Linked DNA regions of Homo sapiens. The protein of the gene in region 2 purifies or fractionates together with the protein of the main gene of each other region. This does not show direct contact. Each region holds a gene or a part of one and is shown on either strand. Other genes may lie near its edges.

Region 1 (3,674 bases), on a different chromosome or scaffold from region 2:
TGGACAGTTATTGCTTACTAACTGGTGCTAGTCTAGTTGAAGCATTCCCGTGATAAATGCTAGGGAAGGCAGCAGAAGCCTCACAACCTAGTGCTAACCAGAGAGCAGTCAATGGCCTCCGTGATCCCTGCCCCATGCCCTGGGGACCTGATAAAGGACATTCTTTTCTTTTCTTCAAGATCCTTTTAAAGTTTGATTCTCTGGATTATCTAATAATTTACTATTTTGGGTTGTGGCAACTTTGCCCAATACAAGGAGTGTCAGAGGTTGAAATCTCCTTTATGCGCACATGTGACATCGATTCCACACTGACTCTTGCAGCTATACTCTTCCTCCTCAATTTTGGCCTCATCTTCCTAAAACACCACGTCTTACTCCCAAATGTGGTATCATTCCAAGCATTAGCTTTCCAACTAGTTCAGAGAGAAATGAAGGAAATTACAGTACCCACAGCAAATAAATAATGAGGCTGAATTCCAACCTTTTAAAAATGTCTTAGCCAGAAAAATGTCTTACGTTAGCCTATCTCAATTCTTATGATTCTTACCACAAAGAGGCAACTGAAGTTTCATCTCAACTACTCCAATTCCCTTCACCAGACCACTAAGCGGGGTGGGACACGGTAAGAACGGGTACCTGAGTAGACTTTCCAGAAAGGAGAGCCGAGGATGCTGGGAGCCATCTTGAATTCTGGTGAAAACAAAGAATCTTTGGTATTCCATAATTCTTACACTAGGCATCTTTCTCTTTTCCTCAAACACAGTTTTATGAATGAATATGAATAGATTGCAACTTGTTATGCTGTGAGCTAAGGAGGTCCACTCTGGTTCAACCCAGCGTGGGTCATTTTAGAAAATGTGCTTAGTCATCTAGCATGAACAAGCTCTCAACCTGTACCCATAGGGAAGTGCCCATGACAGTAATTTCTAGAACTACAGTTTTAAGGCAAGACACACATTAGACACTCTTAATATTTACTGACTAATGATAATATATACAGATTGCATTATGCTCTTCATGGAATCTCCACAAATACTGTTTTATTGTTGTTTCTGTATAAGAATACAAGATTGGGAGGAAATGGTCATTATTAGTATTGTACCCACTATATTGATGAGGACATTAAAAAACCCAGAAGGTGAGTGGGAAGGAAAAGAGGGAGCCTACCCAGCTCTCCTGATTGCTGGCATACTGTTCTTCTCAGTTCTTACTAACTTACTACACCACAAATCTTTCCTTTGCTTAGGATGGCCCTCCATTTATCTAAGCATCTTTTAAGATTTGACTTCAATGTTATTTATACTTTGAAGTCTCTTTTTTTTTTGAGATGGAGTCTTGCTCTGTTGCCCAGGCTGGAGTGCAGTGGCACCATCTTGGCTCACTGCAGCCTCTGCCTCCTGGGTTCAAGTGATTCTCCTGCCTCAGCCTCACAGGTAGCTGGGATTTACAGGCATGTGCCACCACACCTGGCTAATTTTTTTTTGTATTTTTAGTAGAGATGGGGTTTCACCATGTTGGCCAGGCTGATCTTGAATTCCTGAGCTCAAGTGATCTGCCCGCCTTGGCCTCAGAAAGTGCTAGGATTACAGGCGTGAGCCACTGTGCCCGGCCCATCATCTTTTACTTGCTTATTTCCTTGTGTGCCTCTCTTCTGCAGTAGATAACATGCTCTATGAGGACAGGAACCACTGGTCCCAGTGTCTATAGAGGCACTCAGTAAATCCTTGTTTAAAGAGTGAATGAACCTCCACGGTCCCCCCAATACTGAGCTCCTGCAGGAACTTTTACCATTCAGTTAGCATTTAGAATATGTTAACTTGACCCCAAACAGATGAAAAACAACACATGCCTCATCTCCTTCAGGCCATAAATATTCTGACTAAAAGGGCTTCATATCTCTGATCCCCCACTACAGTTTATATGCTCAATGAGTGTTAACTATGAGGATAATATCTTAATACTATTTAATAAGCCTCATTCTGGGACCTTATAATCTAATTCTGATGCAGGTTTTCAAATTATATATCGATAGTAAGCCTCTCTGATTATACCACACATAATACACAAATGAAAGAAGGGATCTTGAGAAAGTTCTACCAATGATCACAAGATGTTTAAAGATGAAACAAGTAAGTTTCATTCCCACAGTGGTCAAAATGCTTACTTTCTTCAATATGACTCCCATGTGTGCACCGGACAGCCCTCTTACCTGCCACATTTCCCTGAGATGCACACAGAGCACATTCATAAAGGGATTCAGATTGGTGGGGCTAACATTGAGATTAATGCAAGAAACATCAGTTTCCCCAGGTATATGTCAAAGCAGACAAGAGATCATAATTTTCTAGGATGTTTTATGAAACCAGCTGGTAGGTCACAGACCTACCTAAAAGAAAATCTGATAAAGGAAAGCAAACATGGCTACAATTATTCATACTTCTACTGTGGGAGTTTCATAAACAAAATAATAAATATTTTTATCTTGCAATAAGATCAAGTTAAGTGATTTGCTGACATTCTCTTGAGGCTTAAGGCTTGTCTTTAATGCGAAATACAAATCATATTTCTCGTGGACACATTTTAATAATAAACTTAAAAGCATATGAGACAAAAATAATGAAAACATTGCAATGAAAACCAGACAAACTATCTACCACTTCAAAAGGAGTGAATGAAGACTGCTCGTCAACACCCTGATGCAAACAACCTCAACACAAAATGCCACATATTGAAATCAGGTTTTATGGAAAGAGAGTCAGCAGGGATGAGAAAAAGCTACTACTTGAAAACAGGTAATTGACCACATGGAAATATACTCACCCAATGCATGCATGTGTGCACGCGCATGTGCGCACACACACACACATTCTGTCTCTCTCTCTCACACACACACACACACAACTTGTAGAACAGATTTGATTTTGGTTCAATTCAAGTTACTTCCCATCTTTCTGCAAAAATCTCACTGGCCAACAAAAAACAGATTTGGTCTCTTTTTGCCTTAGGAAAGGACAAAAAATGTGATGCCAAATCTCTTTGGTCTCTAAAATTCCAAGGCTGCCCCCAAGGGTAAGAAATTGGAACACTCACTGCCTCACGAGTGTTCAGGGGGAGTCCTCATTGTTTCTCATTTTGCTACTTGGGTCCAAAGGCCATGATATAAGCACAACCAAGGGTGCCTGTGGAGCAGCTCACCTCTGGGTCCTGTAATGACAGGTCGGTGATGCTGTGTGAACGCCGTTCCCAGGGAGGAGGTCTGTGAAGGGGAGGGGCTGCTGAAACCAGACTTCTCCGACTTCTTCAGTGTGGTTGGAGATGGCATTCCTGGCAAGAAGGATCAACTGGTAAGTACACTTTAATTCATGGAACAATGATTTGTGCAACCTAAAAGATAACATTTAAAGAATTAAAAACAAACAAAAAGAGAAATCCACCTGTGAATGAAAAAGATGTTGTGAATTGCTTTGCATTTGTCACAGAAACAAAGAGGTGACAGAATAGTCCCCTGATAAGTCGGTCTGTATTTGATTTCAATTTATTCTAATTAATCACAGTCCATTTTTGGGTTATTGGTCTTCAATAATAATACAGGGTTCAACTTTTCCAGTGTTTCCTAAAAGTTGCTGCTTGTGTCTGTGACCTCTGTGACTCCCAAAAAGGAAACCATGTATGCT
Region 2 (2,432 bases):
AGGAAACTTGCGGCAAGCGTCTGCGGTCTTCGCGTTTCATTGCAGACTTCGGGGATAAAATTGCTGCTGCGCCCACGCGCAACTGCACTGGATAGGGAACGGAGGGAGGAGATAGGACAGACGACCACCCCTCCACCCACGTGGAGAAGGCCTCAGACTTCGGGTTCTGAGAGCCAGCACCCTAAATCTGGGTGCGGGTGTACTGGTAGGACCACAGAGTTGGCCTAGTATAGGCGCCTAACTAGGAGTTATTCTGAAGTTTCGGAGAGTAAGAACTTCCTGTCCCCAGGGCCGGGGTGCGTGGGGGAGGGTGGCTACTAAAGGGCAGGCTAGTCTCGGCCTTCGCCGTGGTTCAGCTGCCGCCAAGGGGGTCTCGGCAAAGGAGTTGGAGGTGGCAGCGGGAGTGTAGTTGGGAGGATCATTGAAGGGGCTTTTGGGGATCGACCAATGGAGGGGAGGCCCATCTCAGAGACAGGGAGAGACAAACTTGGAGCCATGGGGAGTGACATACAAAATTTTATTCTTTATTTATTATTATTATTTATTTCTTATGTGCACAAAAGAAAAAGAATCAAAACGAACCGACGCACTGAAAGTGGCCGAGGAGACCAGAACCGTCCGGGGACATTTAGCAGGTTAGGCCTGGGCCTGGGTCCGGGGTCTCTGCCCGGCCAGCCCCACAGGACTGGGATGGGCCGGACCTCGGCGCCCTCGCCGCCCTCGCCGCCCCGTTCGGGCCACTGGAGCCTGGCTGGGCGCCGGGTTCCCTTAAACGATTCTCTTTTCTCTTTTTCCTTCTCAAATAAAAAGGGCTCGCAGGGGAGAGAGATCTGGGCGAGGACTCCAAGCCTTTTCGGATTTGTTCAAGGATTTTTATTTATTTTCACTTTATTGACTTTGTTTCTGTTATTTCGAGTCGTCACGATCCACGGGTGAGGAGACATGCAGGGCGCATCGCCACTACCGAAAGAGCAACTACGGGGCGGGACGGGGCGGCCCGGCCTTCGGCCGCCCGGGGCGCGCGGGGCACGCCCGCGAGGGGGCGAGCCCGGGGGCTGGAGCTGCCACCTCGGATCTAGCCTGCGGAGACAGGGCGGCCGGGCCAGGTCTGGGGAGAGAGGCCGAGGAAAGAGCAGAGACAGACAGACAAGAGCGACAGAGACGGAGAGAGACAGAGACAGAGGGGGAGAGAAGCGGAGAGGAGAGAGGGGCAGAGGGAGAGAGGGGCAGGGAGGAAAAAGCGAAAACACGGAATTACAGAGAAAGAGCCAACAAAACAGGCCAGAGGAGTCCACAGGACCATGTTCGTCATTTTGCATAGAGATTTCTTTTCTTTCGTAATTTTTTTTTGTAACATAAAAAATGCCCCCCTCCCCCAGGACGTGCTGTGCTTTAATGGGCGTGTAGCTGTGTCCCCCCCTTCCCCCCCAGCGAGCGGCGACTCTCACAGCACAGACAGCGGGGCGTATCTACAGGCAGGGCCGGCGGGCGACAGGGACTCTACGGGGCCGGGCGGGGCGGGGCGGAGGGGGAGGGGTTATGTACACCGGGTTTCGCCTTCACACGACACACACCGTCTTTCCACAAAGCAGCAGCCTGGTGGGCTTTTGTGTTGTTTTGTTCCTTTTTGCAAAGACCATCATATTAAATAAATGTAGACTTTTTGTGGTTCTGTTCAGTTCCTGCCGGAGGAGGAGGCTGGGAGGGGATGGGAGGAGTGGAGTGGGCAGCCCCCCACTTCCACCCCGCAGCAGCTCAGACGCCAGCTCAGAACCGGTTCTTACCACCGGCAGATTGAGAGTCTGTGTCGGGGGAGGGGGCATCAAGTAACTGCTGGAGGAAGACCCCAGTCCGCAGTCTATGGAAACTGGTCCTGCGGCGGTCCCGGGAGAGCGTCCGATGGGGCTGCGAGTCAGGGAGGAGGATGCAGGGCGTCAAGGGACAGGCGAAGGACTGGCAGGAGGGGAAACTGGGAGGCCAGCAGGTGGAAGAGACGCTGAGGTAGGGGCAAGGCAGGGCTGAGAGCCGGGTCTCGCAGCAGGAGGTGCCGGGCCCTGGGGAACTAGGCAGGCCAGGAGGAGCAGTGAAGAGCCGAGAGTCCGGCTCGATCGGTGCGGGCTGCTGGGCCCCCCGATCCTTGGGTCCCAACCTTGGAAAGACCTGACGCCCCCAAAGCCCGTTCCTAGAGCCGGACCCCCACACCCCCATTCCATCTTCTGGGACAGGGCACACCCGGAAGGCGAGGGCAGTCCGGCTGGCACTGGGGGAAAAGAATTTTTCCCAGGGATTCGGCAGCGGGCTCTTCCTCCTGCAGAAAGTCGTTTTCTTCTTAATCTCCTTGGCCCAGCCCCTCCAGCGAAGCCTCCTGGCGCCCGAGCGTCCGAGGCGGGTGCCCGGGGCTGGGCCGCGCTGCGGTCCGCGCTGATTGTGTG

Evidence for each region.
Region 1: the proteins of PAX2 (region 2) and NFIA purify together in Homo sapiens (co-immunoprecipitation; one large-scale study listed by IntAct). This does not show direct contact.

What each region holds. Positions count from the first base shown.
Region 1 is NC_000001.11:61,382,887-61,386,560, reverse strand, and holds part of NFIA (nuclear factor 1 A-type), read right to left. Parts: intron 3,325-3,674; coding exon 3,196-3,324; intron 1-3,195.
Region 2 is NC_000010.11:100,828,013-100,830,444, reverse strand, and holds the end of PAX2 (paired box protein Pax-2), read right to left. Parts: 3' UTR 501-2,432; downstream 1-500. UniProt on the Homo sapiens protein: Transcription factor that may have a role in kidney cell differentiation. Has a critical role in the development of the urogenital tract, the eyes, and the CNS.